Linked DNA regions of Homo sapiens: regions 2, 3, 4 and 5 are each linked to region 1. Evidence: fine-mapped expression QTL. A gene starts in region 1. Each other region holds a variant in brackets. All regions are shown on one strand. Distances are between the middles of the regions. Region 1 holds the start of EHD4 (EH domain containing 4). Region 2 holds the start of LOC124903477 (a long non-coding RNA gene). Region 3 overlaps EHD4 (EH domain containing 4). Region 4 overlaps EHD4 (EH domain containing 4). Region 5 overlaps EHD4 (EH domain containing 4).

Evidence for each region. PIP is the estimated chance that this variant, and not a neighbour inherited with it, causes the effect.
Region 2: its variant is fine-mapped to the expression of EHD4 in thyroid (GTEx, PIP 0.92).
Region 3: its variant is fine-mapped to the expression of EHD4 in cerebellum (GTEx, PIP 0.98).
Region 4: its variant is fine-mapped to the expression of EHD4 in whole blood (INTERVAL, PIP above 0.99).
Region 5: its variant is fine-mapped to the expression of EHD4 in whole blood (TOPMed, PIP above 0.99). The same link has a PIP of 0.9 or more in iPS cells.

The regions. Positions count from the first base shown.
Region 1 is chr15:41,969,601-41,976,012 of GRCh38, forward strand. EHD4 (EH domain containing 4) reads right to left here and starts at 2,957. Exons shown (of 6, transcript NM_139265.4): 1 at 2,659-2,957. The coding sequence starts at 2,894. It overlaps PLA2G4E-AS1 (PLA2G4E antisense RNA 1), which reads left to right and starts at 3,163. Exons shown (of 4, transcript NR_120334.1): 1 at 3,163-3,398; 2 at 4,204-4,358. RefSeq lists an enhancer at 417-636 and silencers at 2,399-2,668, 2,769-2,838, 2,879-3,008.
Region 2 is chr15:41,940,169-41,946,580 of GRCh38, forward strand. EHD4 (EH domain containing 4) reads right to left here. Exons shown (of 6, transcript NM_139265.4): 3 at 2,899-2,996. It overlaps LOC124903477 (a long non-coding RNA gene), which reads left to right and starts at 2,939. Exons shown (of 2, transcript XR_007064603.1): 1 at 2,939-3,224. RefSeq lists an enhancer at 2,208-3,065. The variant C/T (reference allele first, on the strand shown) is at 2,950.
Region 3 is chr15:41,896,052-41,902,463 of GRCh38, forward strand. EHD4 (EH domain containing 4) reads right to left here. Exons shown (of 6, transcript NM_139265.4): 6 at 1-5,130. The coding sequence ends at 4,594. It overlaps LOC105370792 (a long non-coding RNA gene), which reads left to right. Exons shown (of 4, transcript NR_135681.1): 3 at 1-1,470; 4 at 2,116-2,764. Among named protein-coding and RNA genes, the nearest start is that of SPTBN5, 5.2 kb to the left of the region's middle. The variant C/T (reference allele first, on the strand shown) is at 2,443.
Region 4 is chr15:41,905,017-41,911,428 of GRCh38, forward strand. EHD4 (EH domain containing 4) reads right to left here. Exons shown (of 6, transcript NM_139265.4): 5 at 4,683-4,847. Among named protein-coding and RNA genes, the nearest start is that of EHD4-AS1, 13 kb to the right of the region's middle. RefSeq lists an enhancer at 1-7. The variant T/A (reference allele first, on the strand shown) is at 3,681.
Region 5 is chr15:41,928,515-41,934,926 of GRCh38, forward strand. All of the region lies in intron 3 of EHD4 (EH domain containing 4), which reads right to left. It overlaps EHD4-AS1 (EHD4 antisense RNA 1), which reads left to right. Exons shown (of 4, transcript NR_120332.1): 4 at 168-772. Among named protein-coding and RNA genes, the nearest start is that of EHD4-AS1, 10 kb to the left of the region's middle. RefSeq lists enhancers at 400-903, 866-945, 966-1,095. The variant G/A (reference allele first, on the strand shown) is at 3,091.

The DNA.
Region 1 (6,412 bases):
GTGGAAATGTCTTCCTTCACAGCACCTGGGGCCAGGGATTTTCTGGAGGAATCTTTGAAATCTGTTTTCCTCAAGTTTTGGACACAAGCCTGGGTGAGCTCCATATCCATCCTTCCTCGGCTAGTACAGAGTCTAAGATGACATGGTCACTTTCCCCCATGCCCATCTCCCCTCCTTCTCTGGCCAATTCTTTATTGCCAGTCAAAGGCAGAAGAGCCAACAGCAATAAGAGAAGATTCCCACCATGTCAGCACAGGTTCTGTGTCATCAGTGACCTCTTGGAATGTGCAGGAAGCCAGGGAGATAAGAATCTATGGCTATGTAGATTAGGTACACCCCACAGCCAAGTATGAGCTTCTAGGGCCCAATCGCTAGAAGCAAACAACCCAGACCACTAACCAGGCTCTAACTAAGGCAGGATCCAGGATGCTCAGCACCCTGGGCCAACCCTTCCGCTCAAGATGAATCCATGGTTCATTTACAGTGTCTGGGGTGATATTTAATTCCAAGTTCACAAGTCTCCAGGGTAGCTGCCCTTTTGTTTGGGGATTTCCTCCCGGGTGCTAAATCACTTCCTCCTAGCTCCAATCTGAAAAGCAATTCAGGTCTCCTGTGGCCTCACCAAGCTTCCTGCCCACACTGATTTTCTTCTAACCTCACTGGTCTACCTTGTGTACATCACCTAACAACAAAGCCACTTAGCTCAAGGAAAGCCTCAAGAACAAATGGCTTCCTAATAAGGTGATTCCTCCCTCACCCTAGGGTGGCCCACAGCTCCAGCACCTGCTGAGAGGTGGCCAATTTGGATGAGGTAGCTGCCAGGAATCAAATCTCAGAACCCTTCATAAAACTGCGCTTAGCTATTCCACAAATTTCTCCAAATAATGAAACAGAGAGAAGAGTGAGAATATAATGAGAGAGAAATCTGGAAAAATACAAAAGATAAATTCATGTTCCTGTGAGTTGTATTCATCTTCCTGGGAGTTGATAATCAGGCTGGCTAGCTATCCAGTCTATGGGAGCAGAGAGAGGGCTGCATTATCTCCAGGTTGGCACAGCATCTAGCAGGGGCTCCCTGATGACACCTGGGCACAACAAGGACCTCACAGCAAAGACAAACAGGAGGAAATGCCTAGGGTGTGGGGACATGCCACCACTAAATTACAAAAATATATGCCTTTCTTCTTTGTATGTTTCAACAGTACCGCTTCCCACTCTTGTACCACTTGGCCATAACACTTTATTATCCCTAGTACCTAAAAACTAGACAGTATTACTGAGACCTTAAATGTGACATTTGTCATCTTTCAAGGTGCCAGTTACTGTAATACAGCTATGGTTCATTTTGAGTGTCTGGGTGACGGTGACATATTTAATTCTATTTTTGTCTTGTCCATAAGCACCAAATAAAGCAATTTTGAAATTACTTTCTTCACACTCAATTTATTATCTAGAACGACATTTCAATACACAGTATATTTGTTTTGTGGAATTCATTCGCAGTGTATCTGGAGGCCTGGATTTAACATATTTCCTGTAGTGATAGCTACTCTATTTGTAGGAACTATTTAGGTCACTGGAGTGGAGAAAAAGAGGTCGCTACTTAACAGAAATGGCATGTATCCAAATATAGATGCAGTTTTCTCAACACCTGTTGCACATCAAATGATGAAGAGATTGTTACAATTTCCAAAACCCTGGACCAAAACCTTAAATGATCAGCACTTTGTTTCAACTGATACACGGCTTAAGTCAGAAAAATAAGTTCTTCTTACCAAAAACAGTGAGCCTAAATATGCTGGCTGCTTTAGAAATAAAACAGGTGATCAACAAAGCAATCTGTTTCTGTCTAAATAATTTCCCAGCAAAAGTCACTTCTTTTGAAACTATATGATTTGAACCACAGGGTATGCACAGTGATTGTGTGCTTTCAGAAACACGGTAAGCATGACAAATATTTTCAGTTGTCAAGGGTAAGCGAGGAGGGAATGACCCACCTAAGAAATGGAAACTAACAAATAGTAATATGACACTCCCCCTTAGTTCCACAGGCTGGTGCGGCTGCTACACGCAGCTCACTTCCTACGGGCGGCTAAAGGCGGTGCATGAACTGAACGTAGGCGGCCTCTTTATCCCCTCCCCACAACACTGTGGGGTGGCACGTAAAGACCTCAAGGGAAGGGGGCCTGGGCGATACGCTCTCCTGCTGCCATTCATTTGTTCAAGAAATAGTTGAACAAATGAATAGTTAAACAAACTCTCCAACTAGGACTCTGTCCCATTCGGATACCCTACGCCTCTCCCCCCATTTCCATCCCTAGGCATCACTCCCTCGTCAAGAATATGCTGATTATGGCTCGCGCCCCCTCTCTCCCTTGGACCCTCCCGCCAGGGCGACCGGACGAGGCCAGCGGGAGCAACGCCTTCCGAACCGCAAGGAAGGAGGGCTCGGAGTGCGCAGGGCGCGGGTTCGCGGGACCCTCCAGCGCGCGGGGCTGGCCAGCCGGGGCGGGGCCGAGGGCACCGGGCGCCGAGCTCCGGGAGGGGTCCCCGAGGTCGCGCCGGCCGGGAGGGGCAGCGGCGGGAGGCGGCCGACTGCGGCGCACACGTGGGGAGGGCGGAGCGGGGCGGGAGCCGGGCGAGGGGCGGTGACGGTACCTGATGAAGGTGGTCTTGCCGGTGCTGTACTGGCCCACCAGCAGGATCATGGGCTTGTTCTCGAAGTCGGCGTCCTCCAGCGCAGGCGAGTGGAACTCGTGGAAGCGGTACGCCTCCTCCAGCGGCAGCACCTTGCGCAGGTAGAGCGAGCGCAGCCCGCCCGTCACCGTCTGCACCGCGTCCGCGCCGCCAGCGCGTTCGCGCCCGCCCGCCTGCCGCCCCATCCAGCTGAACATCCTGCCGCCAGTCCACGCTCGGATGGGACCCTGCTCCGGGTTCGACTCTCCCCGGCTCGCACTGAGCCGCCCCGGCCGCGCTGGCCGCCGCCCGAGGAGGGCCCCGCCTTGTGCTGCCACAGCCAGTCTTCGGCCGCTACGTCACGCGCGCTCGCCCACTATTCAGACGAGCTCTCTCAGGTCCTTCCTGATTGGATCTCTGCCAGAGAGGGCTGAAGGCGTCAGCCAATTGAGAGGAGGTTCTTAATGAATTATTGATGACGGAGTCATTCTAGAGGACTGGGCGGGGAGATGGTGTCTTCCCGGCCGGGTGGCACTGACCGGTCATGCTCAGGGCCCCCTTCTGGTTGCCGGTGCCTCACCTCTGGCCAGGTGGCATCGGCTTCCGGGTAAATCTGAGCTGCCCAAAGCGAGCCTCCGGAGGCTGCTCCATCTCCTGGAACGTTTACTCATTCAGGCCTCTGGACGTCGATACTGGGGATGAAAAGTTCAGAAAGTGGACAGGCAGGTTCTGTCTTCCCGGGGGCGGGTGGTTATGACTCCGTTTTACAGGCCAAGAGACCCAGGCTCACGGGCATAATTGACACAATCTTGAGGGGAAGTGGACTGGAATCTATTTGAGTAGCCGTTTCTCCTACTTCTCCACATTGCCCTCACTAAATTCTGGATCAGCTAAAGGCTTTTTCCCCTTAGTTTTCTTTATGTGTTTTTCTGTAAAGCCGAAAATTTAGTCATTACTCTCATTATTACATTATCCTCATTATTACAACTTTATTTCCACATATTGACATGTGAGTCATTGTCACCTCCTAGCTGTTTTTTGTTGTTGTTGTTGTTTTCTGAGACGGAGTCTCGCTCTGTCGCCCAGGCTGGAGTGCAGTGGCACGATCTCGGCTCACTGCAACCTCCGCTTCCCGGGTTCAAGCAATTTTCCTGTCTCAGCCTCCTGAGTAGCTGGGACTACAGGCGCTCACCACCATGCCCAGCTAATTTTTGTATTTTTAGTAGAGATGGGGTTTCACCATATTGGTAAGGCTGGTCTTGAACTCCTGACCTCAGATGATCCGCCTGCCTTGGCCTCCCAAAGTATTGGGATTATAGGCGTGAGCCACCGCCCCTGGCCTGTTTCTTTTCTAGGTTAAAAGGATACTCACTTATCTAAGTTGAGATTGGGGGAAATAATCACCTTTTGTGTCCTTGATTGTAGCTTAGGAATATTTCTTAGTTGTTTTAGAGCATTTCTCAAGTGTGATCCATGGGGCCACCTGCATATATGCATTTATGAGCTGGGATGCTTGTTAAAATGCAGATTCCTGGTCTTCAGTCCAGACCTACTGAGTTAAAATATTGAGGAGAGATGGAGCTCAACAGATGCCCTAGGTGACTCTGATGTGGCCTAAGTCTGGGGAAACAGTACACCCTGCAGTACTTCTCCAACCTAACAGAAATGCGGATTCTGATTCGGTAGGTATGGGATGGGGCCCATGACTCTACATTTCTAACAGGCTCTCGGGTATTGCCAATGCTACCCATCCCTGGACCATACTTGGAGTATGAGAGAACAGGACTTTGCATCAAAAGATCTGGGTTTGAACCTTGACTATGTAAATTAATGGCTGTGTGATTTTAAATGTGATGAGTTACCTCTCTGCCCTAGTTTCCTTAAGAGCAAAATGGAAACTCCTTTGGAGTTGTTGTGTGGGTCACATAGTTGGAGGGAATTGTATGTAACTAGGGAAGTGAAAAGAAAGCCAAGGGAAAATAAAGTTAGACATCTGCCTTGTGTCAAAATAAAACAAAGATTGAAATGTAAAAAGAAAATGAAACCACTGCACTACTAGAAGAAGGTACAAGAGATTTATACAATTTGGCGGTGGAAAAGCCTTTCTAACCAACATTAAGGACAGAAATTATGAAAGCAAAGGCTGACATATTTGACAACAAAAGTAAAAGCTTCGATGTATTTTTTTAGAATACATAAAAACAAACGGATATAAATACAATCTTACCATATGATGCAGAAATCAGCTCCTTAGTATTTACCCAAATGAATTGAAAACTTATATCCACAGAAAAGCCTGTACATGGATGTTCATAGTGGCTTTATTCATAAGTGCCAAAAATTGGAAGCAACTAACATGTCCTTCAGTAAGTGAAAGGATAATCTGTGGTACATCCAGACAATGGAATCTTATTCAGCACTAAAAAGAAATGAGCTATCAAGCCATAAAAAGACACAGAGGAAACTTAAATGCCTATTACTAAGTGAAAGAAGCCAATCCGAAAATGCTATGTACTGTACGATTTCATCTTTATGACATTCTGGAGAAGGCAAAATTATGGAGGAAGTAAAAAGGTCAGTAGTTTCTAGGTGTTAGGGAGAAGGAAGGAATGAACAGGCAGAGAACAGAGGATTTTTATGGCAGTGGCTCTACTTTTTATGGTACTATAATGATGGATACATGTCATTATATATTTGTCAAAACCCACAGAATGTACAACACCAAGAGTGAATGTAAGTGATAATGACTCGTGAATTTCAGATCAGTTTTAGGTTCACAGCAAAATGGAGCATAAAGTACCGAGAGTTCCCATATACCCCCACCCTCCCCGACACACAGCCTCCCCCACTATCAACATCCTGAACCAATGGAACATTCGTTACAATCAATAAACCTAACCTAAATAGATACATCACTAAATTAACTTAAAATGGAACTAGATATAAAACTAATATAAATGTAGAACTAAATGTAAAACTTAAGATTATAAAACTTCTAGTAGAAAACACGGGAGAAAATTGTTGTGAACTTGGGTTAGGGAAAGATTTCTTAGGTGACACCAAAAGCACAATCCTTAAAGGAAAAAAAAGTTGGTAAATTGGATTTCATTAAACTTGAGAACTTCTGACCTTTGAAAGTACTGTGAAGAGAATGAAAAGACAAGACAAGGCACAGAATATACTTGCAGATCACATATCTGATAAAGGACTTGTATCCAGAATATTTAAAAACTTCTTAAAACTTAATAGTAAAAACCCCAATTTTAAAATTTCCATTTAAAAAATGGAAAAAAGATCTAAACAGATATTTTACAAAAGAAGATGTATGGATGGCAAATAAGCACATGAAGACATGTTCAACATTGTTGTTTGTTAGGAGAATGCGAATTAAAACCACAGCAAGATACTACCACATACCTATTAGAATGTCTAAAATTAGGAAAGACTGATCATGCCAATCATTGATGAGGATGTGGAGCAACTGGAACTCTTACACATTGTTGGTCAGAATGTAAAATGGCACAACCACTTTGGAAAACAGTGTGGCAGTTTCTTAAAAAGTGGAACGTACACTTACCACATGACCCAGCAGGGGAGGAGCAGAGGGAAGGATTGCAAAAGGCACTGGAAAGCTTTTGGGGCTGAAGGGTTTATTCATTACCTTGATTGTGGTTATGGTTTCACCATTGTATACATATGTAAAAACTCATGAAATTATGTACGTTGGATCCTCCAT
Region 2 (6,412 bases), 29 kb before region 1:
CAGTGGAGGGCAGTACACAAGCGGCCACCTTTCCTCCTTCCCAGGCACAATGCCCATAAGGGAGGCAAAGACCCGCCAATAAAGTCAGTGGGGGATGCTTTAAACATCTTGTGGGGTCACAGTTTGTACCCAGTCTATTATCCCATGTTGACATTAATTCTTGGCAAAGGTGGGGCTGTGGTCTTATGAAGCTGGTCTTACGAAGCTGGGTGTAGGTGTGAGTATACGTGAGAACGTGGCACTGTTTGCAATCGTTTGAGCTGAAGCTGCTTTACAACAGTATGCATTCTTTGGGGTTAGTGTGTTGAAAATGTCAGCTGAGTGACTTCCACCACCAGCTGCGCCCCTAACACCGTGTGGCACCGGGCTTGGGAACCACAGCTGTGGCCCGTCGTGCTGTCATCGCTTGTGGCTCTGGGTCCTTCCCCACCTGTTGCTGTGTCCGTCGGTGTGGCAGGGACCGCCGACTGGCTGGAACATATATGCTATTTCTGTGCATAGGATGTGAGTAAGTACATGCCATAGTAAGTCAGACCAGGATATGAGTCAGATCATATTATAAAGTGATACAAAGAACTGATCTTCAAAGCATTCTGGAAGCATTAATCCACGTGTCAACACTATTGTAAGGGAGCTACAGTTTGAAAGACACGATTACTAAGCAAAGGAGAGACGCTGCAAGACTCAGGTGAACAGAACTGGCTAAAGGCCTACCAATGAAAACAAATGCATATGGTGGGAGCCAAAATCCGGAGGCCTTAAAATTTAGAGGTAAAAAGAAAGAGTTAGCAGGACCACATATTTCTCCAGCATATTCAGTCAGAAATGGAGAAGCAGTGAAACACGGGCAGCTCAGAATAGCTGTGGAACATGGGCCTGCTTTATTATCCATACTATCTGCAGAGCAACCTTTCTGGGGCTAAATTAATGGTCCTCAACTGACTCTTAAAAAAAAAAATTGATTGGCACTGAGGTGTAAAGACACACATAAAAAGACGACCATCCACAGCACTATTTGTAAGCATAAAAACTGATTAACCATCATGATGTCCACAAATCAGCAAAATGAACTATATTATGTCACTTTCATGGAACCCAAGTAGCTATTAAAAGGAATGAAATAATCTGAATATACTGGCATGGAATGATGTCCAAGGTAGACTGTTATGAAGAAAAATCAAGGTGTAGAAAATGTGCATGGTAATCCCATTTCTATTAGAAATGTGTTTGCATATGCGCAGGAAAAAGTCTCTAAGAAGTGAGAGAAAACCATTAATAATTGTTAAATGTGACAGTGAGTTTTTTTTAAATTCTTATTCATTGACTGAATCCTTTGCCATAAACATCTATACTTTTATAATAGAAAATAAAGCCAACAAGATATTTATGAATAGCATTAACCTGTTTTTTGGTGTTTTTTTTTTTGTTTTTTTTTCATAATTGCAAGGTTCTTGGAGGCCCGGGAAAGGTGACCTTAATGGCATTCCATAGCTGGCAAGTCCCTGACTGAAACAGTGAAGGCACAGCAGGCACCCTGGGAGGCCTCGGCTCAGCATAGCCCCGAGCTCTCTGCGGGACCACGGAGCAGCAGAGATGGCATTCCCAAAATGCCAAGAGAAAGGAGGGCTTATTGGCCTCGGAATCCCTTTCTTGACCCCTGTCACGGGACCCTCACTGGCCTATGTAACTGCACTTCTGCTTTGTGAGCTGTGGGGTGTTCACTGCCTTGTCATAACCTGCGACCGTGACCCCACACAGGCTTCTGCTCAACCCTGGCATGCCCAGACTTCTCAGCACGGTGCTACCGACTTGCTGTTCAAGGGGTTGTGAAGAGTTCTCAGCCAGAAGTGATGGCAGCGATGCATCTGCTCCATCTCCTCCCTCCCAGCAACCCGCCTTTGTTTCAAGGGCCAGGGCAAGGAAAAGACTTGAGCTGCCTCTGGACCTGTGATGGCAGGAACCCATCCTGACCCTCCCGATCAGGCATTTCCTCTCCGTAAGTCAACTCTGTCCTCTGGTCTGCCCCTGATGCCCCCTTCCTCCAGGACGGAGGGAGATAGCAGGCCCACCGGTTTTTTGTTTTTTTTTTTTTTTTTGAGACGGAGTTTCGCTCTTTTGCCCACAGGCTAGAGTGCCATGGCATGATCTCAGCTCTCCGCAACCTCCGCCTCCCAGGTTCAGCTCTCGTGCCTCAGCCTTCCGAGTAGCTGGGACTATAGGTGCCCACCACCATGCCCAGCTAATTTTTGTATTTTTAGTAGAGATGGGGTTTCACCATGTTGGCCAGGCTCTTCTCGAACTCCTGACCTCAGCTGATCCACCTGCCTCGGCCTCCTAAAGTGCTGGGATTACAGGCGTGAGCCACTCTACCCAGCAGACCCATCTGTTTTGACTACAAAGCACAGGCCTAGAAGCAGCTATTGCCTCAGCCTTGTCTTGTGAAGGCTGGAGAAACTTATGCTTCGGCACAAGCATTTTCTATCCTTCACAGATCCCCTCTGAATGCTTCATAATCTCTCCCTACCCCACAGCTTCCCTTAGGTAATTCCTACTCCTTCAGATCCTAGTTCCAATGCTGCTTCCTCCAGGAGCCTCTCCCAACACCCCCGAGGCCAAGCCAGGTCCCCTCACACCTCGATACCTCCCATTGTTTACCCCACTCCTCATCTTCATTTACTCATGTGTAACTTGACAAATGTCTTTCTCACAGAATATAAGCCTCTGGAGGGGGCAGAGTCTTTGATGCTATGAACTCCTGGTTGACACTTGGGGCCCCTTCAGCTGCCCAACAGCTGTCCTGGAGGACGGATAGAATAATATAGGGACAGAAATCCTCTGCTCACAGCAGAGAGGGCCTCAGCCAGCACTTGGTGGGGAGGGGCAGGGACAGGCACTGACCTCGGCTGATGCGCTGCTTCTCCCCAGAAAGGATGCCGGGGCTGTCGATGA[C/T]GCTGATGCTCTTCAGGACCTGATTGGGGAGCTGTGAGCACATGAATCTGGAAGAGACGGATCAAAGGAGGGGTCAGAAACTGGGCATCACAGAGTGCTCCAACCATGGGGCTTCTTGGCCTCTCTGGGCTTACTGACATCTGTAAAGTGGGGGCCTGAAGGAGACTGACAGAAACTGAGGATGCCTAATGAAGTTGTTTGTGAAGTAGGAGCTTGGAGGAGATTGATAGCACCTCCATCCAGCCACAGAGAACAGATGCTGGCCCATGGGACAGGTATGAGAGGTGCACAAGCACCTGCTGCCATCTGCCACCTGATGCCTTTCTGTTCATTTTGATTTTAGCTAACATTTATTGAACATGCAGGTATCTTACAAATATCCTCTCATTTGATCCTCATATTGACCTCATGAGGTGAAGGAATTATGCTTAACATAAGAGAGGTTAAGTAATGCTCAGGGTCACTCAGAGCGGTGCCTTAAACCAAGGTCAGCCTGCCTCCAAAGCCATGGGCCTCACCTCTCCTGGCTCCATGCTGGCCCCTGCCCAAGCATCCTGGGCCTCTCCCCCTGGGAATCCCATGCCTTCTTCAGGATGCACTGGCCCACTGGGCTGGAGAGCCCCAAGCTCCCTGCCTATTTCCTAGCATGAAAGCTGAAGGGACTGGGGCCTGTTTCCCCATCTGATGCCCCAGGAACTTAGCATCCAGCCCAGTGTCCCCTATGGCTTTAGGGCCAGGGAGGGGCAGGCACCTGTGACACCCAACATCCTCCAGGTGCTTAGGAGTCTAGGGGAGCTGGAGAGTAGGTGAGGGGACCAGGTTGGGGAAGGCCCTGGCTGAGCATCTTTAGGCCCCTCTTGTTCCTCATTTGCCTGATACCATCTCCTCCTCCTGATCCTGGTCCCTTTCCCTGTAGTCACTGCCCTTGTATCCACTCCACGGAAGCAGAGTGCGGAGGAAAAATCTAGCCTGTGGGTCAGCAGACCTGGGTTCAAGTTCTGCCCAGCGTTTCCTGATAATCTGCTATGGGACTCTGGGTAAGGGCCTCCCTGCTCTGGGTCTTGGGTTCCTCACATGAAAATGGTGGCTTCCCGACAGGGTCTGGCGATGTCCTTTTAGCTTTCAGACTGAGTAACTCCAAAAGTGATGGCAGGAAGTGCTTTGTTACTTCCACCCTGGGCACCAGGGTCTGGGATGGACCTTTGTGAGGCACTGTGCATGTTTAAGGCAGAAAGTGTAGAATGCCTCTCCTTTTCCTTTACTATGGATGGCTGACATCTGTGTCTGTGTGGGCAGAAAGCTAAAAGCTCAATTCTTCCGTACGATGGAAGTGGTGGGGATTACTCACAAAGTAAAAATGCTGGGAATGCAGGACAGGGAGGCCTGGCCAGCCTCCACAGTGCACATGTGGACACCACAGCCCTGGGTATGAGCGGCCGTTACTGACATTTCAAAATCACTTTCTCTGAAGGGGCTTGGGATACGATTTTTCACACAGTCTTTCCTACATTTTCAAATCGGCCCAGGAAGATATAGAAAAAGACATTAGGATCCTTTTGCAGGTGGAAAAGTTGAAGCACAAAGCAGTTATGACATTCTGAGGCCATGCTGCTAATGCACGGCTGGTTGCAGACTGCAACCTACTGTTTCTGATGTCAGTGGGGTGGAATTTAACCCACAAAGTTAAAAACCTCATAACATTAAAAGTAAAGGGTCAAGTTAGTGGAAGAGAAGCCCCCAATTTCCACCTGTCTGCAGACACTTGTGCACAGTCCCCTCCTGTACCCCAACCTTTAAATAAACCCTACTACCCAACACGGGGAGAGGTTTGTGGGAATAAAGCACATGAGGCTCACCAAGCATTCTTTGTAAGTTCACAGAAAAAACCCCACCATGCCATTATTCAATTCTCTAGAATTGGGGTGGGAACAGGGCTCTGGGCACATCCGTGGTGAACCTCGTTTCTTGTCAGGAATGATTGTCTCTCAGTGCCGTCCCATTCTTTCCATCAGATGGCCCGAGACATCTGGCGGAGCTGAACATATCACACCTACGTGAAACAATTTTCTGCAAACCATTCCCGTGGACAGGCTGATCTTTTCCCCAAACCACAAGCTCACACTCAATATCCATTTTTCCAAAACAGCCACCCCCTAGATTCTCAGGTGAGGCTAACAGAGGGATTCAAAATTTGCACACTGTTCACTCCCTGTGTATAAAGTGACAGCCTTTCCACAGCTCCCAGGCCTCCTGACATGACAGCAGAGGCCAGGCACGGGAGCCACAGAGCAAGCCACCGTGAGATGTGCTGACGTCACCACATGGCATACAAGCGGGCAAAGCGAGGAGCCCAGGATGGCTGAAAAAGAGAGGATGAGGAGCAGCAGGTGGAGGCGGAGGGAGAGCTTTGGCTGGGGCACCTCAAGAGTGGGCAGCTGGGGTTTTGGGTGCACAGCTGGACTCTGCTCCCTGAAAGACAGTGTCCAGGGGTGAGGGGCAGGCAAGAGAACAGAAAGGAGCATTGAGACCCTGTGGTGCCACGCTCATGCTGCGAGGTGACAACTGCATATGAATGCATTCGTACGAAGTTATGCTGGGATCAGAAAAAATCCTAATGGTGTTCTAGCAATCATGCCTCATGCTTCTTCTCTGAGAAAGGGAGGCGCACGGCAAACGTACTTGCTGTGTGTATAACAGCAGTGCAGTGGTAGTCGTAGCCCAGTAGTGAAGAACCTGGGCTCTGCAGTCAGCACTGCCAAGTTCATGTCCCGACCCCATCAACTCACAGCCGTGGGACTGGGCAAGGTATGTCGTGTGACTCCTCTGCGCCCAGTCTCCTCCTTTATAAGCAGAGGTTCACAGCCCTACCTGTAAGGTTGTGGTGAGCCTGGAGTTAATGTGCACGGAAAGTGCTTTGAACGGTGCCTGACACCCAGTAAGGGGGCCCTGGCCGGCCCAGCTTATTGAAATGCTTCCAAGCACAGATTTGCTGTCCCAAGATGGATTTCCTACTCCTTCCTGGGGAGATTAACACAAGGAGGATCTGTGCCTTGCCCTCTACATTTCACGTAAAATATGCAGACACATGCTGGTTCAACCCAGGAGCCTCACATGGCCCTCACCCGAGGATGACCTGATAAATGTTGTCTTCTGAAGTAAGAGAAGAAGACGGAGCAACTGAAGATCCTAGGCTGCCCCCTCAACTCCATATCCTCTCCACGTCTAAGGAAGGGCCAGGGGTAGCAGAGATGGGGGATAAAGTAATGGTCCAGGCTATGAGGTCTCAGGCAAGCTGCTAGGAGTCCTGCCACACAGTAAAAGGAGAGAGCAAAGCCAGGCACCATGACTCTCCCTGTAATCCCAGCACTTTGGAGGCTGAGTGGGGACGATCTCTTGAACCCAGGAGTTCAAGACCAGCCTGGGCACCATAATGAGACTTCGTCTCTACAAAAAATAAAATTAG
Region 3 (6,412 bases), 74 kb before region 1:
TCAGCCTCCTGCATTGCTGGGATTATAGGTGTGAGCCACCATGCCTGGCTTACACAGTATAAAGGGAATGCATTGGCCCACACAGTGGAAAAAAATATCTAGTAGGAATAGGAAGGACTTCAGGTGAGGTTTGATCCAGCAGCTCAAATGTTGTCACCACAGGCCTGGATTCCTCTGGCCTTTCTCAAGGTCTCTTTCATTTTCATGCTCCACAAGATGGCTTCTGCCAGGCTGACCTCCCTCCCCTGACCCCAGCAGCTCTGGACACCCCTCTCAGTGCCATTTATATTGTTGCATCAATAGGCTCATTTCTATATACTGCAAGGTTCAGAGAAGACAGAGTATCTCTCTCAAGAGTTCTAACATAAGTCTGGGGGTCCTGGCTCTCATAGGCTTGAACAGGGCCACATGTCCATTCCTGAGCCAATATTTGTGACCAAGGGGATGTGGTCAATCTCATCCAAACCTCACTTGAAGTGAGGGTGGGAGGAGGAGTGCTCTGCAAGGAGACTGTAGGTCTGGACCACCAAAAAGGTAGATGGGTTGGTGGGAAAAGCCAGATGCCTACTATGGTAGTGGGCGGGGGGAGGGCACACTGGCAAGGTACAGCAAGAGGCAGGGGCAGTGCTGGACAGGCAGGGGCTCCTCCCTAGCACGACTGGAGAAAGGACTCCTGTGAAGCGGTCACCTCCATGAGTCCCTCCTGTCCTGGCTTCCAACCACTCTGAAGTGGGGCTTTTGTCCACAGACCTGGCCTCTGCTGCCTACCCTCTTCTGTCCCCACCTGATGGGGCCGCTTTCCTTCTGAAGCGGCTGCATTTTGGGTTTCTCTCCACAGGAAGAGTTGGGGCTCACAGGCACACCCTCTCCCTAACTCTTCTCCCCCGGTTCAACCTGGATCCAGGGATCCACACTCTGCTCCGAGAGGCCAGCACGCAGCCACTGGAAAATGAGCCAGTGGGAGAGGGCAGCTCCATGTTTATTGATCAGCAGACTATGTCTTTTTGTTTGAAACTTCTAAATAAGATTACAAAAAGAAAAAAAATAGAAGCATTGCGTATTAACTGCATTGGTTAACCAACATTGGAACCCAATACTCTTGTATTAGGCCCGCATTTACCTGAGTAAACTCAGTGGTTTTCTGTCCTAAGCATGCTTGCCTGCTACATCCCATGGAGAAAATAAACAGTGAAACACTTTCCTCATCTTCAAGGCAATTGTCTCAGGCATCCTCCAGGCATCATGAAGGAGGGTGAGCGAGGGTGCGAGGTGGAAAGGTCCAGGCCGCGGCTGTGACTCCCGCGGGTGAACCACAGCTCCACAGCCCCAAATCCAAAGATGCTCTTGCTGCAGCACGACAAGTGTTCAAAAGAGAACCAGGCCCAGCCCGGAGAAAGGAAAGCCAAAAGCCAACTGAATGAATGACCCTCCCCCAGAAGAGCAACCCTGCCCCCAGGCCATCCAAGTGCGGTGAGTTGAGAAATGAATTGACAGACGCTGCAGGGCTGGAGCAGGAGGCGGAAGCAGGTTGGAAGGCTGTTGTGTGCCACCCCTCCCTGGGAGCTGGGGAGATTCCCAAGTCTTAGTGCAGTGTTTCTCTACAAACGGGGTCAGGAGACCCTCACTGGCAGGCTGACAACTTGGAAGCAGACTGTGGGAGCAATAGGCTGGAGTTTTCATTTTCCCTTTAAACTCAAGACCGGAAGGTTTGTGTTATGCGATACCATATGCTGTGTAGAAAACAGGGCCTCAGCTTCTTAGATGTTGTAGTTCTAGAGTTTAGGTACTTCCACCCTCTCTCCTATACATAAACACTCTGTGGAAGAGGTTCTTTGAAAATTGGGGTGGTGCAGGAAGGGCAACGGTGATGGTGAGCAGGCCCCAGGGTCGGCCCTGCCGCCCTGCCGTGTGGGGTAGGGAGACAGCTGGTGGTGTGGACACATTCACAGAACTTTGTACTGGTCCTGGGAAGATACAAGTCCTCACTTGGTCGCCATCCCTCATATTTTCTAGTGTTTTCTTTTCCAGTCAACTTTTCTTGATGAATGACTGCATGTAAGAGGATATTAAGAAAAGTGGCCAAATGATTTCCTTTTTTTTTCCTTTCTCTCCAAGAACATTACCAGGTGCCAGCAGGGAAAGGACTCCGCTGCCTGACGCCTCTCCCACCTGAGAGCGCAGAGGTAGGGAGATCACAGTGCCTGAGAGGTTTTCCTCCACGGAGAAATCAGAGACCTCAACCTGCTGCCCTCTAAAGCAGCTTTCTGTATCCAGACAAAACTTACATATGTACACGTTGTTTTAAAACGACATACTCATGTGACACACATGTATATAAATTCATGTTTATATATGACAATTGAGGAGAGTTAAAGAACAAGATAATTCTGGATGGAAAAATCAGTTTGCCTGGGCATCTGTAAACCTTTGGGCAAGTGAATT[C/T]CCTCTTCTCTCTCAGTTCACCCTTTGGTGACCTCCACCGTGGCTGCAGACTTCAGGTGGTCCTCACGCATTCACAGAACTGTCTGCTTAGGTTACAGCACTTTGGGAGGCCGAGGTGGGTAGATCACGAGGTCAGGAGATCGAGACCATATTGACCAACATGGTAAAACCCCATCTCTACTAAAATACAAAAATTAGCCGGGCGTGGTGGCGGGTGCCTGTAGTCCCAGCTACTTGGGAGGCTGAGGCAGGGGAATCACTTGAACCTGGGAGGCGGAGGTTGCAGTGAACTGAGATTGCGCCACTGCACTCCAGCCTGGGTGACAGAGACTTCCTCTCAAAATAAAAATAAAAATAATAAAATAATAAATGGTTCTTTTCTATGCGTCTAATGAATTTAAGTGCTTGTTAAGACTAAAAACCATGTTATGCATTTCCTGCTCTTAAAACTAAATTATGTAGAAAGTAAGCTAGGGAGTGTAAGGGTAGGCATCTGGATATAAATGCTTCTCCCAAATCAAGATTTTCTCTTCAATCTGTGCCTTTGACCCTGTCACCAAAGGCAGGTGACAGAAAAAAAAAATTATGTGCCTTTTGGAAGACTCAGTGGGACGGTTCTGATTTCATTCACTTCTGGTGCCAGCAGGCCCCCATACCATGTGGCCATTGCTGTTTCGTGTCTCTTCCTGCATAAATAATGCAGAGAGGCCATGCAGGTATGCAATTTTCTGGAGATGAGGCAGGGAGATTTGCAAGGAAAAGTCACCTACCTCCCCAAGCTGGTGCCCACAGAGGGGGAGGCACCTCCACCTGACGCAGGTGTCTGAGCAGCAGTCCAGAGAGGTTTACTCAGGGGATTTGGGGAGCGCACACTCTGGAGCAGAAGTACAGGTATGTGCCCGAATCCTGCCTCGTGATGGGCATTCATGATACGAACCACACAGCCTTTAAAGAAAAGGTTTTATATGAAAGGTTCCATTTTGTTTCTGTATAAAGGCTTTTATCCTGTAAGGAAAAAAAAAAAACACAAAACCCTAGACATAATAAATGCCTGTTTTCTACAAAAACAATGTCTAACTCTGGGTGGACTGATCTCTTCTCAACAGCCCAGGGCAGGGCTGGTCCCTCATTCACCTGTGTCCACAGGGCCGAAGACACTGCACACACTAGGACAGGATTTGATTGAATTTAAATCCTGCCACCCACCAAGGAGACCTCGGGATATTTAATGTTTGAGGGCCACACTAAACGATCACTGCAGAGAACCACCTCTTTTCTTTACTGTAGTTTAAGTATGATAAGTGGGCTTTGCTATTACTTATTGGAAAAACCAGTAAGAAAAGCTAATTTTCAGGCTTCAATGTGATTTGACATGCAAACGGGAAGTTTTGCCAGGGGTTAATAAAGGTTGTGAATTCCAAATTCCTAGCCGAATATGGCTTTGCTGGTAAGCCCCCTGGAAGGGAGGTTGGGAGGGCTGACCAGATGGTCATCGGGGCACTGGGATGGAGGCACGCTGGGGCCTGACTGCCTGCTCTGCTGGAGACTGCAGAATGGATGGCAGATCCACAGTGCATCCCCCTTCCAAACCCAGGAGGCATCTGTCGCCTTCTCTTTGGTAGACAGTCTGGAGACAGCAGAAACCCTCTGCTCTATTTTTTTGCCACTCTAAATATAGCAGAAAACAAAATAAAATAAATAAGATAATCTTTGCTGCCTCCAGGTGCCCTCTGAGGGACAGACAGCTGCTCCAGAGTTGTTCATGAGGACAAAAAGCCCAGGCAGCCTGGAGACCCAGCTGCTCTGGGTGAGCCTTAGCTCACTTCCTGTGGTTCCTGGGACTTACCAGGCCCACCCCCATGCGCATTTCTCCAGGCAGGTTCTGAGGACTCTTTGGACAATTTCTCTTTCTTCTCAACCCTTCAATCTCCTAATCCACCCCCCTACCCCCAATATTTTCATAGAAACTAAGGGAATTTTGGAGGTGAAAGAAGTCATCTAGTTTCCAGTGTCCACCCTCCCCATTCTACAGATGGGGAAACCAAGGCACAGAGAGGGCAGTGCCTTGCCCAAGGTCATTCGGTGAGTCAGTGGTGGAGCAGGCCTGAGGCCCAGGTCCCCCAGTTCCCACCCCGTTCTGCAGCCCACCCCTCAGTCGGCCTTGGGCAGGGACTTCCTGTGCGAGGGGGGCACGAGGTGGGGGGGCAGGCTGCTGGGCAGCTCGTAGCCGTCGAGCTTGATCTTGATGAGGTGCTTGGCCAGCGCGAACTCCTCCTCATCAAGCATGCCGTCGCAGTCGCAGTCGGCCAGCTTCCAGATCTTGCCCAGGACGCTGTTGGGCAGCTTGGAGGTCACCATCTCCTTCTTGGCGTTGACACCTGATATCTTGCCATTGATGGGCGACAGAGTGTAGAAGAGCTCGTCGTAGACGGGCTTGTCTTTGGCCACGACCCACTCCTCCTCGTCGGCGCCCTCCTTGGCACCCTCCCCGTAGCCCTGGTTGAAGGGGCCCTCGGTGGTGCCATCGAAGGCGCCGCCCTGCACCAGCTGCGTGGGCGTGCTCGTCTCCTCCTGGCTGATGAGGTTCATGAGGGGCGAGATCTTGTTGCTCAGCATGTTGTCCACTGCCTCGATCAGCTTGGGCTTCAGCGAGTGGAATTTGGTGAAGTCATAGTTCTCAAGCTGTTCCTGCAGAAGGACAAACCACAGGATGGGTTACATGTGGTCTCTTCAGGGGGAAACAGTTGGGGGCCACTGGAGGGAGACTAATTCTGCCCCAGGCAGACGTCCCACCCACTACTCAGGAGTGCACTCTTTGGGAGCTTCCCACATCCAGATGTACCACATATAGGAGTGGTTGTTTTGGAACAAGAAACAAGTGTTTTTCCTATGGCAGCCAATCTCTGCTGGTGGCCGCATGAGCGACAGCAACCTCCGAGGACTCTGAGAAACCTTCTTTCACCTGCCTTTTTAAAAATGCTCTAGAGTTAGTATTCTATTTCTCAAGGGATTTCACTACACACTTCAGCCGATCTTCATAGCAATCCTGGGAGGAAGGAGGGGCAGGCATTTAGAACCACATTTTACAGAGAGCTGTGAGGGGCTGTCTGGCAGAGTCAAAGCAGAGCCCCTGTCTCCTGGCTCTTGACTAATGCTCTCTGTGCTGGAACACAGAGCTGTGACAGAAGGACTATGTTTACATAAAACAACTAATTAAATACCTTGTTTTCGGAACACGTAAAAAAATGTAGTGTAGGACAGCTTCTTAGTGGCTCTAACCTCTTATGAATGAGCTGAGGGCGCTACTCAACAGGAACCCCGTAGGACCAGCCCCACCAAGTACGGCCTGACCAGGGGCACCTGTGCTACCCCAGGAAGGTATCGAGGCAGGGCCACGGAGACCTTGCATATACAACATAATCATCATGAATCCACTGTCATTTCTAAAATATGGACAAATAAGCAAAAGCTGGAACTTGTAAGAGCAGGGAGTAGGGCTGGGGAGCACGAGGGAATAAACGTAGCTGGTAAGCCTGAGTATCACTGGCCAGGTCAGGACATATCTTAGCTCTACCTGTTGAGTGAGGCAGCCTGTCAGCAGACAGAGCAGCAGAAGCACAGGCTCTAGAGGGGGCCTGGGAAACACTGTGACTGCCCAACCAGGCTGGGGCAGACTACAGGATGCCACAGAGGCTCTGTGGATGGCACCGTAGAAACTGACCTTCCTACCTTGGTTCTCCTTGGTTACTCCATCCATCCATCCATCCATCCATCCATCCATCCATCCATCCATCCATCCAACAACCCACCTGTCCAACTAATCCTCCAACTAACCATCCATCCATTCAACCAACCCTCCATCCATCCATTCAGCCAACAATTCATCCATCCATCCACCTACCCGACCAACTTTTATTTGTCATTTACTCTGCACCAGCCCCTGTTCTGGGGCTTGGGGATACAGAATAAA
Region 4 (6,412 bases), 65 kb before region 1:
GCATCAGCGAGCTCTCTGCGTGACCCTGATATGTGCAAAGATCACAGTGTGGTCACTTCTAAGCGTATGTCCCCCCTCTGTCAAGGCCTATGTTACAGAGGATGTTAGACTTTAACAGCCTCAGGGATGGGACAGGCCCTAACCCACACACGCGCCCCTCAAAGCTTCCGGTGACAGCAAGCTAGCTTGCAGTATCAGGTGACACTAAGCATTCCTGACAGGCTCCAGGCTGCCTTGTTCCTTGGGGATTCTCCGAAGGAATGGGGTGATGTGACTGGGCCTCAGCCTACTTCCCAAGGAGGCCTCTTCCTGCAGCTTCTAGGGGTTGGCACGGGGAACCCCTGGTCTATAAGCCCTGTGGGAATCGAGGCTGCGTCAGGGCCTGAGAGCCTGCTGTGATATGGCCTTACACTAACTTACTAATTCACTTGGCTTGTGTGAATTGAGCACTCACCACGTCCTAGATGCTGGGGATATGGCAGTGAACAGGGCATGGGTCACTGACCTCATGGAGCCACAGACTTACGTGGGAGAGAGATACTAAATATCAGACATCAGATAATTCAATTACATGGAAGCACAACAGTGCTCATATTGTAACAAGAAACATGTGTCCTTACAGTGGGGTTGCTGTCAATTATTTTTACCCCCATTTGTTCATTTTTTCTGTTTTTTGACAGGGTCTCCTCTGTCGCCCAGGCTGGAGTGCAGTGGCGTGATCATGGCTCATAGCAGCCTCGACCTCCGGGCTTAAGCCATCCTCCCACCTCACCCTCTCAACTGGCTGGGAACACAGGCATGAGCCAACCACACCTGGCTAATTTTAAAATATTTTAATGGATATCGGGTCCCACTATGTTGCCCAGGTTGTTCTCCAACCCCTGGACTCAAGCAGTCCTCCCATTTCAGACTCCCAAAGTGCTGGGATTACAGGCGTAAGCCACTATGTCCAGCCTCATTTGTTCATTTTTTTGTGTTGATTTATTCCAGGGGCCTAGAACAGTGATAGCAGCAGGAGGCAGAAAAATGCTGAGGCAGATAGGGGTGGGTCTCCAGTGAAACCCTATCTTCAAGCCAAAGGCAGTTTAAAGCCTGCAGGCCAAGCTACAAGTCAAATCCATGGACTGGATTGAGAACCTGTCTTTCCATTTGGCTGCTTTTCTTTGATTGATCCTCACCCTTCACCTATTTTACATATACCTACCCTTCCCTAATTGTTTTTACACTGTTATGTCCACCTTTGACTGGTGCCTTTGTTTTAACCTTTTTTGCATACTCACAAATCAATCAGCATGCACTCCTCTATCCTGTGCCTATAAAAACCCCAGACTCAGCCACACTGGGGAGATGACCTGACTTCAGGAGAGACAACCCAATCTTCCCATCCCCTCTTCACTGAGAGTTGTTTTGTTGCTCAGTAAAATCCTCCACCCTCATCACTCTTCAATTGTCAGCATGACCTTATTCTTCTTGGATGCAGGACAAAAGCTTGGGACCCACCAAACGCAGGTACCCAGAAAGGCTGTAACACTGGCCCTCTGCCCTCACCATTGCAGGGTAGCCGTGCCACTCAACAGAAGCAGTGGTGGGGTCGAGCTGGACCGGAGCCATGGGCCAGAGTGGGGCAAGAGGGTGACTGAGCTGCTAACATGATGCACAACTAAAAGAGCTAATTAGCACACTGTAGCACCCCCTCTGGGGCTTTGGGGTTGCGGGCATCCCTGCCTGGGCACTGCCACGTTCCCCTTGGGGTGACACACCTGGTCTGGCTGCAGACCATGCACAGAGCCTGCTCCTATGTCAGCACTTGGAGTGGCTGGCTGGATCCTGCACTTGCTTGCTCACCCACCTTCCGTGGTGCTAAGGTACTGGGCATAGACCTGAGTCCAGGTGATTCTCAGCAAAGGCTTGGCCCTCCTTGTACCCTCCATCTCAGTGGGCCATGGCTGCTCCTGAGATCATGCTTTCCTTGTTGCCTTCCCCCAGCTCAGAGGACCCTGGGTGTCTTCTGACCTGGCCAGCCCAGGCTAGCTTTGTCATGAGTAGCTCTGGTCCCAGAGCCTGCTCCCTACATTATCGGGCTCACAGGGGACCAGCAGGAGAGGCCTGGCAAGGGAGGCCTCTGTGGAGCCCCAGGGCTCAAGAGCAGCGTCTCCCTGTGGCAAGGCACTGTAGCAACTTCAGGAAGCCAGCGAGGCACAGAGGCCCCAACTGGGCCACAGCTCAGGCTCTGTATTTCTTTATAACTTTCATTTAGGTCAAGAAACCAAGTTCCCTTCTGAAATATCTGAAGGGTACAAGGAAACAGCTGTCTTACTCCTTGGTCATGGGATACAGGGCATAACCAGGGGTGTGAATGGGGAAGTTGCCCAGGGAGACTGCTCCTGGAGGCCACAACAGCCCTCCAATACCACCTGGTGACCAGAAAAACCCAATTCAGCTTGTGAGCACAGGAATACCCATTTCACTGCTGGAAGAAAAGAGACATTTCTCTGTTGTGTGTGCGTGTATATATTTTTTTGAGACGGGGTCTTACACTGTTGTCCTGGCTGGAGTGCAGTGGTGCGATCTTGGCTCACTGCAACCTTCACCTCCAGGGCTCAAGTAATCCTCCTACCTCAGCCTCCCGGGTAGCTGGAACTACAGACATGCACCACCACACCTGGCCAATTTTTTTGGATTTTCTGCAGAGACGGGGTTTCACTACGTTGCACAGGCTGGTCTCTTGACTCCTAAGCTCAAGTGATCTGTCCGCCTTGGCCTCCCAAAGTGTAGGGATTACAGGTGTGAGCCACTGCGCCCAGGCTCTGTGTGTGTGTGTGTGTGTGTGTGTGTGTGTGTGTGTGTGTGTGTGTATATATTTATTTATTTTTTGAGATGGGGTCTGCCTGTGTCACCCAGGCTGGAGTACAGCAGTGCGATCTCAGTTCACTGCAACCTCTGCCTCCCAGGTTCAACAAATTCTCCTGCCTCAGCCTCCAAAGTAGCTGTGATTATAGCCACCACACCCGGCTAATTTTTGTATTTTTAGTAGAGACAGGGTTTTACCATGTTGGCCAGGCTGGTCTTGAACTCCTGACCTCAGGTGATCTGCCTGCATCCGCCTCCCAAAGTGCTGAGATTACAGGCATGAGCCATCACACCCGGCCCTCTGAATATATTTTAAAATAAATACAGCTAAAGCATATTGGGTCAGATCAAATATATTAGACTGATTCACTCTGAATCCAGGTGTAAAGAGCTGTCATCAAAACAGCAAGAAAAACCCACCTCTGAGTTAGTGTATAATTTATATAAAGCTTGCATTAAAAAACCCCTTAGGATCAAAGTTCCCCTCTCATCACCTGCTGGCCCTTGCCTCTTCTGCCCGACCTTCCCTTCTCCCTGTATCCTCTCTGCTTTCACCTTTCCCTCCTCCTGCCTCGGGCTGTACCTGCTTGCAGTTTTTAATCTATGCTGGCTTCAATGCTGTCACTCTGTGGCTCAAGGCAAAAGATGGTAACTGGTGGTCTCTGTGTGCAGCCCATATGCAGGTGGGCTTTGTTTGTCCTACATAGTATTTTTTTGAGCCTAAATGTGAAAATCAGGTGATCTGACATACAAATCCAGATTTCCAGCTTCTCTTGAGCCTTCCAGGTCTGTAGTCCCACAAGGCAGTGACCACTGGGCTAGACGGGGCT[T/A]CTGCATTGTCCAATCTGCCCTGCCATGAGACCCCTGACATGTTCTTAGCACACCTCGGGATGGTTTTCTTCCTTGCTGACACATGTTTCTTGGAACCTTCTTCTCTATCAAACGTGGGAAAACCAAAGGCAGCCAGAGAGGGTGACAGAGTTTCTCTTTCGCCTGGCCTGCTCCACTGTTTGCGTTACTGGGTGGTGGCTGCAGGCATCTGAGTTTGTGGCTCCTGCTTTACAGAGAGGACTGTGGCCCCCAGGGCAGAGGGGTCCTTGCAGCAGATAAGAAGACGGCCAGCCTGGCTCTGTGAGGACTGTCAGCCCAGAAGCCAGATGGGTGGCCTCGCTTGTGAGGACACGCTCGTCTAACAGCAGTGCAGAGAGGTAGATATGCCGGTCAGGGCAGGACGGCTGAATGCAGCACCCATTGTTGCCTGGCTGGAGCTGCCCAGCCACAACTCAAGAGAGGCCTTGACAGCAGGCCAATGGCTGCCCAGCACCAGCCTTTAAGCACAGTCCTCCCTGTGCCCACGCAGTCCAGCAGCGTCCGCAGAGCCCCACAGCCCCTGCTGGAGCCCTTGAGCCTGCAGCAGCAAGGCTGCCTGAGCACATAATCCCACGGCGTGAGGCAGGTCAGGGCAGGGCTGGAGGAGGCCGCCCAAGGTGACCCTGAAGGCCACTCCCAGCTGTGATTCCCTCACAGTTCTGGGATTCCAATGTCACCGCAACATCAACCAGCCTCCTTGGACACAGTCTAAGAGGGCTGCTCACCTGACTTTCTCATGGGAGCTTCATTTACCTTTGGCCATGTGTTTCCTTTGTTTACGCATTTTGGAAGACAGGCAATTTCTGCTTTATTCATAGCCTATTATCATGGATCACCATTAGGAAGATGCGTTGTCCTTGATCCTAAACCATGGGACTCTCATTTGTCTCCAGCAAACAGCCAGACAATGTGGCACTGCACCTCTGCCCTCTGCCCGTGACATTGTAGTGGGCTCCCAGTACCTGCATAGCCTTGACCTCAGGGAAGTCCCCTGCAGAAATCTGGTATTCTCGCTGTAGCTGAATGTAGATTTCCGGTAGCCTGCTGATAAGCTCTCTCTTCTTGTTTTCCTTTCCAAATACACTTGGCATCTCCTTCTTCAGGTAGCTGATGATGTAGGCATGCACCTGGAGGGGTATAGATCAGGCAGGGAAGTGTCATTTAGAATTGCATCAGAGAAGGAACAAACAAGATTGCATCTTAACTCCATCATAACACATAACAGGTACCCACACAAACCAGGTCCCAAGGACAGGAGGAGGGGAGGGTCCAGGGGGAGTGGAGCTGTCCAAGGGTGGCCGGAATGTGGCCAGACTTGGGGAAATTCTACGGCTACTGTTCTGTTGTGCCTCTGAGTGGCAATTCTGGTGTCTGTAGGGAGTGAGTGGTATGGGTGGGGCCTGGGTGGGAGAGCTCTTAGTTCTGGCAATTAACCAGAATACCCAGGAGAAAGTTTCACCAGGCTGGTGCCTGGGAGCAACAGGAAATGAAACTGGAGGCTGGCATCAATGGCTGATCAACATGGAAATCTGTACCCAGTGAACGATGAGATGAGAATCCCCATAACCCCCCTGTTATGGGAGGTTTAGACTCTGAGATCTCTACAGGTGGAATTAAAGTCATTCTGCACAAGACCAGCTGCCTGGGATCAGGCTGGATGGCAGAAGATCCCCCTGGGAGAGGAGCCCAGAAGCCCCAGAAACCTTGATCACTGGGGCTTGGGGTAGCCAGCAGGCTGTCATTGGAGGGGCGAGAATCTGGCCTCAACATTTCCACTCTTCTACTGATTTCCAACTTCAGGATATTAAGAAATGTTCACTACAAAAGTTCTCTTTGTATATATATATTTTTGAGATGGAATCTCGCTCTGTTGCCCAGGCTGGAGTGGAACAGCGTGATCTTGGCTCACTGCAACCTCCACCTCCTGGTTCAAGCGATTTTCCTGCTTCAGCCTCCCGAGTAGCTGGGATTACAGGTGTGCACCACCACGCCTGGCTAATTTTTGTATTTTTAGTAGAGACGGGGTTTCACCATGTTGGCCAGGCTGGTCTCGAACTCCTGACCTCAGGTGATCCACCCACCTTGGCCTCCCAAAGTGCTGGGATTACAGGCATGAACCACCATGCCCGGCTACTTTGTATATCTTGAACTTCAGAGTAATTGTGAAGTCAAGTAAGTAACTAAAATAAGAAAGGATGAAAAACAGAGTGGTGATTACAAAAAGAAAATGACTATGTAGCAACGGAAAATCCTATTAAAGAAAACAGACTTCTACTGTAATCTTGTAGAAGTTGAAATTAAATAAAGGGGGTAAGCAGATACATTCCATAGCTCAGCTGAGGGCCCGTGTGTGGACACATGCTGGACACAGCCAAAAACATTTTGTGAGGATTTGGATGCTAACCTAAGTACCTAATGCAAGGTCTGACATGCTGAGGTCAGACAATGTCAACTTCCCATCTGCACAAGGGTCGTTTAACAGAAGCATGCACTGTGCAGCCTGGCTACCGCTGAGAGGATGGTCTTGGAGAGATGACGCTAAACCTTTCTGTCACCAGCAAACTTGTTTATGTACTTATTTTTCAAATGAAGACAATTGAAATGATTTACAAGATTCTTAGAGATAACTTGAGAAACCCGAAGTTTGGGATCCGTTATTTAGAATCCTGGGCTTTAACCGCTGTGATGAGCA
Region 5 (6,412 bases), 41 kb before region 1:
ACTTTATTTTCTCCTTTTTGATTTGTGGTTTCCTAAGTGTTCTACAATGAATATATATTATTTTTATATCAAGAAAACAAATATGCATATTGTAAAAATTATTGGCCCACTTGCATTATTATTGAGGAGGTTGTTCTTTTTCTTCTACAATGGTGCTTCTGGTGAAGGTCTGGATTCCAGCATTTCCCTGCCAGAGGCTATGGTGGGTGTGCCGAGCACCACCCTGAGGGGGAAGCAGTATCTCAGCAACTACACCCCCGAGGAAGAGGCAGTCCCCAATCAGCGGGAGCAATGGGACCTGCTGATGACAAAATAAGCCACAGAATGAATGGCTCTGCTCCACTGGCCTTCTCTCCTCCCTGCCCCCTTTTCCCCAGCTGACCAGATGCAGGGCAGTGGCAGGGAGGGGCTGATACCAAACCCGGTCTGGGAGACTGCCCGGAGGGAACACAGGTTCCCAAGCTCCTTTTGGAGAGGCTGGATGTGAGTTCACCTCGAACCTTTCAGCTGGTAATGGCCACCTCTTGGAGAATGTAACTGGTTACCAGAAAACCCCAGAGGTTGTCTCCCAGTACCTAGCCTAAAGTGGGTGTGGCCACAGAACCTACCAAAATTTAAATAAAAGCAAGAACTAGGCGTGTCCAGGGATGGCGTTGTGCTGTTTATCCGCTCTCTGCTCTTCCCACTCCTCCTTCCTTTGGGATTTTGTCCAAGACTCTGTAAATTAATTTTTCTGTGCCTGTTTCCTCATAAAATAAACAAGCTAACCTCACAGCCTGTCCCTCCTTCCTCTGGGGGATATGTGACAATAACAGATGGGTGAGCCACATGTCCCTGAAGGCCCCTCCAGGGCAAGGGCGGGAGAGCCCCACATCACAGGTTCGTGCCACGCCACAGACATGGGAACAGAGGAAGGTTCCACGCCAGTACTCGGCCCACTGAACGCTGCTGCTTCTGGGCATGTGACCAAGTGAAAGGGAAAATTGGGTTTCGCATCTCACTTTCCATCTCAGATTAAATACCAGATGAAGAAGCAGGCCCATTTAAAGAAGGCTGAGCCCTGGAGAAAGACAGCAACATGGTATTATCAGTCATTTTAGGCTCTTTGCTGGAGAGGGAAGTTGGTAAAAAAACCTACCAAGAAAATCCTGTAAGTCCTGGAGCCTGGCTTAACAATTTCATTCTGCTGGGCCTCAGTTTCTATACCTGTGAGTCAGATGATCAAAAAGGATTCTTTCTAGATCTTAAATTTTAGCTATATAGGGTGGTTCCAAACAGTAAGCTTCTTTGAAATAAAAAGCCAGATTCCCAGGAAAATCGATTTAGCTCAGCGTCTGTATAGTACAGACACGAACTAGTTACAGTGCCAGCCTAAGATGACCCTTCAGATGGCTACAGTAGACCCTTCAGATGGCTACAGGAATACTGAATGAACAACTCTAAATGACACAATTATCAAACAGTAAGTTTCATTTTATTACATCCCTTCTACTGGATTCATGTGCTATATAGCATTTGGGCCAATTTGAAGGTCCTTGAATGTTTCTATAGGTGTAATTAGTTGCCCCAAAGTTTAACTTATTGTCATCCAATTCCAAACAACTCTATACTGAAAGAAACTATCTGAGGAAGGGTTGTGGAATGTATGACTTCCAAGGATGCTTAAGAAGTCACCCCATCTAACCTTCTGATATTATTATATATTAGGATGAACAGATCCAGGAATCCCGTGTCACGCACATGGAAATTGTCCATTCCTCATTTTTCAAGTGGGCTTTGTGTATAAGTCAGGCTAGAAAGTCTCATACAATATGTCTATAAATCAGACGGAGTTGGCGTGGCAAACATTACTTGCACTGAATTTTCTTGAGGCAAAATGCCAACAGACTCCACCCAAATGTGATGAGGTCAAACATTTATAAGCAAGGCTTTGACCGTGACAATGCATCTTGTCATTCTGTGGTTCAGAAGGGCAAAGGTAATGTTTCTTCAGGCTACAGTTTTCTAAAGAGAAATGTTAAACCAACGGGATGACAACTGGGGTCATAAAGGGCTAGAAAGCAACTTCTGACCTGAAGACCCCACCCCTCGCCCTGCCCTGTTCCTCTTTTCAAACATCTTGGCATTGCACAAGTGTCCTGCATGCCTGTGGACAACAGCTGGCACTGCAGACCAGCTCTAGCAATTAAGTTATCAGCTAACCAGCTCCTCAAGCCAAACTATTACTCAGAGACAGTTATTTCTGGGCTTATGTCACAGATGGAAAGAAAGACCCAGTCAGTGGGAACCATGGGAATCCACACGGGGCTCCTTATAAAAAAATGACTCACTGATTTTGCTAAAAGTAGCCCATGTAGTTACCAACAGTATTTCAAAACAGTCAAATACCTCCAGAAAAGGAAATACTTTAAAAAGGTATACATGAAAAGATGCTCAACCACACTAACCATGAGGAATGAAAATTAGAATCATAATGAGATGGTGGGCATGTAAACAGGCATGCCTTCTACAGTGGCATTTTTGGCACCAGCTAACATAATAAAAAGACCGCCGCTCCTTTTGATTCCAAAATTCCACCTCTAGGAATGCATCTTAGAGTTACATCTGCACATTTTTTGGATTAGTCTCTATTTCATTTATTTTTTTACATTGATAAAGAAAAATTGTATATATTTATCATGTCCAACATGTTGTTTTGAAATATGTATACACTGAGGCTGGGTGCAGTGGCTCATGCCTGCAATCCCACCACTTTGGGAGGCTGAGGCAGGTGAATCACTTGAGCCTAGGAGTTTGAGACCAGCCTGGGCAACAAGGTGAAACCCCATCTCTACAAAAAATGCAAAACATTAGCTGGGCATGGTGGTGCATGCCTACAGTCCCAGCTACTCAGGAGGCTGAGGTGGCAGGATCACTTGAACCCAGGAGGTCAAGGCTGCAGTGAGCTGTGATCGTGCCACTGCACTTCAGCCTGGGTGACGGAGCTTCGAGATCCTGTCTCAAAATAAAATAAAACATAAAATAAAGTAAAATTAAATTAAAATAAAACAAAATTAAATATGCATTCAATGTGAAATGGCTAAATTGACA[G/A]TGCAATTAGCATATGCATTACTTCACATACTTGTTTTGTTGTGGTAAGAACACTTAAAATCTACTCAGCAATTTCTTTTTTTTTTTTTTGAGACGGAGTCTAGCTCTGTCACCCAGGCTGGAATGCAGTGGCGCAATCTCAGCTCACTGCAACCTCCACCTCCCAGGTTCAAGTGATTCTCCTGCCTCAGCCTCCTGAGTAGCTGGGATTACAGGCGCACGCCACCACGCCTGGCTAATTTTTGTATTTTTAGTAGAGACAGGGTTTCACCATGTTGGTCAGGCTGGTCTCCAACTCCTGACCTCGTGATCCGCCCACCTCAGCCTCCCAAAGTGCTGGGATTACAGGTGTGAGCCGCCGCGCCCAGCCAGCAATTTCTTTTTTTTTTTAAGCTCCTCCCTTTTCAGCAATTTTCAAGATATATTTGCACGTTATCGTGCCAACTGTATACACTTGCACCGTACATGCTAAACTGTGTAAATCCACTGTGGCACTGTTTGTAACGGCAAAAGATTAGGAACAGCCTGAATGTCACCCACCAAAAGGATGGCACCTATTAATTCTGGTCTATCTATATGATGGACTGCGGGAGGCAGCTCCGAAGTACAGACATGGACAAGCTCCAAGATTTACTATAAGTGGGAAAATCAAGACACAGGGCAGTGGAGCGAATCCCGCCAGGGCTCCACGTGAGTGGGCGGGTGAGCTGGGAGAAGCCCCAGGGTCTGCAGGCAGGGTCTGCTCTGGGAGAGGAACTGGGGGATATGGGTGGTACAGACATTCTTCACTATCTTTTTGTAGCCTTTTGTCCCAAGCACATACACACCTACCCACCGCAGGGTGCTTCAGAAAGGTGAAACGCTGCATACATGGTCTGATTTGTGCTTTGCATCTCGATTTGGATTCCAACAGGAGGCAATTTTGAGAAAGAGACTAAGATTACAGGTGAATGGAGGTTTCTTGAGGAAACTGCATCAGGGCATGTGTGAGAAATATCCCTAGATACAAGAAAGAGGATTATGGCAAAAAGAATTGGAGGAGTGCCAGAAGCCGGGCCCCTCAGCCACACCCGGGAACACTGCTCCCGGGTCATTCTCTTCAGCAGGTTTCCCACCTCCAGCCCTTGTCTGCACTCTCGTGGCTTTCCATAGCTCTACGGTCAGGCCCAAATACTTCACGCACCCTCACCGCCCCTGCTTTGGATCTCTGGAAGAGCAAGGCCCTTGTCTGAGTCCCAGGACTCGGCCATCCTCTGCCCTCCCCTGGGAAATGCTGAGCGCTTGGCCGAGAGGGCCCTCTGAGCTGGGTCCGTCTATTCTGGGACCACCCCAGTTCTATAAAATGAATCATGACCGCCCCTATCACCAGTTATTAATCATGATCCATGTTAAATGGTTTACACATGTTATCTTCAAAACAACCCTGGGAAGGAAAATTCCCTCACTTTATAAAAGCGGAAAGAGGCTCACAGGGCCCCATGCTGGGATTCAAGCTCAGGTCAGCCTCCTCCAGGGCCCACAGGAGTGTGCCTGCATCTCCCCACCTCCCTCTGTCTTTCTAAGGAAAATACAGATGCTCCCTGAAAGCCTTGTTATTTTCAGCGTTTCCCCAACCACAGGCTTGTTTGGATGGTCGAGATGCCTGCCTGCCTGCCGGGCACAGGTACATGAAACCTGAATTCAAGCCACACGTGTATCCTGGGGAGGACCTTTTGCTGTTTCCCTCTCACTCTGAGCTTCATAGATAACAGGAACGGCTGATATCTATGGAGCACTTAGGTATGAACACAGATCATTCAGATTCTCGTAAGATCCCACTGTACGAGAGAAAGTACCTTCCCCTGTTTTAGAGCAGGGGAAAATGAAGCTCAAAGAGGTGAAGTAACTCGCCCAGGTTGCCCAGCTGGCAAGGGAAAGAGCCAGGGACAGGGAGAAACGTGCCCGGCCAGTGTTTCTCGGCATGGATTGCCACTGCCTCTCTTCCACCTAGAATCCTGCATTTATAATCTTTCCCTCCCACCTTCTAGGCTGGGGGTTCCCCACTGGTGCACAGTGATTAGGAGGGAGAGAAGCTTTACCACCTCTAGCAACAGGGATTGAGGCTGTGTAACAGGAATGTCCCCATAAAACCAGGGAAGGTTATTAAACGTTTCAAAGTGTACCTGAAAACTTAAAAAAATTCCTTCTTTATTTTCATTAGGGGTTCCTAAAAATCCTAGCTTCCGAAGTAGGCTAGGCGGGGGTGCTCCTGCAAGCAGTGAGACACAGACAGAGGACCCAGCATCAGGCCTCACGCCCTCCCTGTCAGACGCCCATGAGGCCGACAGGGTCACTTGGTGACTCCTGCGGGACAGTCACCTCTGCTTCCTTCCAAAGCCCTGCCCTGGAAGGAGGCTGGTTAGTCACAGAGCCTGCCCCACCCCATCGTCTCTCTCACTCAAGTTCTCCCCTCCGTTCTCTGAGAGGGCAGCCTTCACCCTCGGGCATACAGAGATGCAGGACAAAGCCCAGGTTGGTTTCGGTAGGTTCTCCAAGTTTGCCAGCCCCTTCTTTCACTTGTTTTGGGGATGGCAGGGTATGTAGGAGGGACAGGCTCAGGCTCAGGAGTGGTGGCTCAGCCCTAACCCAGATTCCTCAAAATGGGGCCCCCTGTATCAGAACCCTCTGGACCCTGCCCAGATGCCCCTGAACCATGTGCCAGGAAGTTTTTTTTTTTTTTTTTCAAATAAATAAATGGAGTTTTGCTCTGTTACCCAGGCTGGAGTACAGTGGCACAATTATAGCTCACTGCAGCCTCAAACTACTGGGCTCAAGGTTCTCTTGCCTCGGCCTCCCAAGGAGATAGGACTACGAGAACACACCACCACACCCAACTAATTTATTTTATTTTTTGTGGAGACTGGGTCTCTCTATGCTGCCCAGGCTGGTCTGGAACTCCTGCCCTCAAGTGATCCTCTCGACTCAGCCTCAAGTTCTAGGACTACAAGTGTGAGCCCCTCTGCCTGGCTGAAGCAGCATTTTAACAGCTCCCCAGGTGATAACTGTCTGTGGACCCTGGGGCTCACCGTGCTAGTCTTCCGAGCATCATTTGCAGCCGTGTGGACTCCAGAGCAGGAGGGGGCAGCAGGGAAAGGCTGGCCTAGAACATATATGCCACATGTATGACAGAGAAGGAAAGGACAGCAATTGCACGGCCGAAGGAAAGAGAAAAACCAGCAACCAAACACGCCCAGAGAACTGAGTGGCAGGCCCAGGGCTGTTCTTGCCCAGTACAGGAAGACCCGGACATTCCTAATAATTCTAGGTAATCAACAGAAGATTG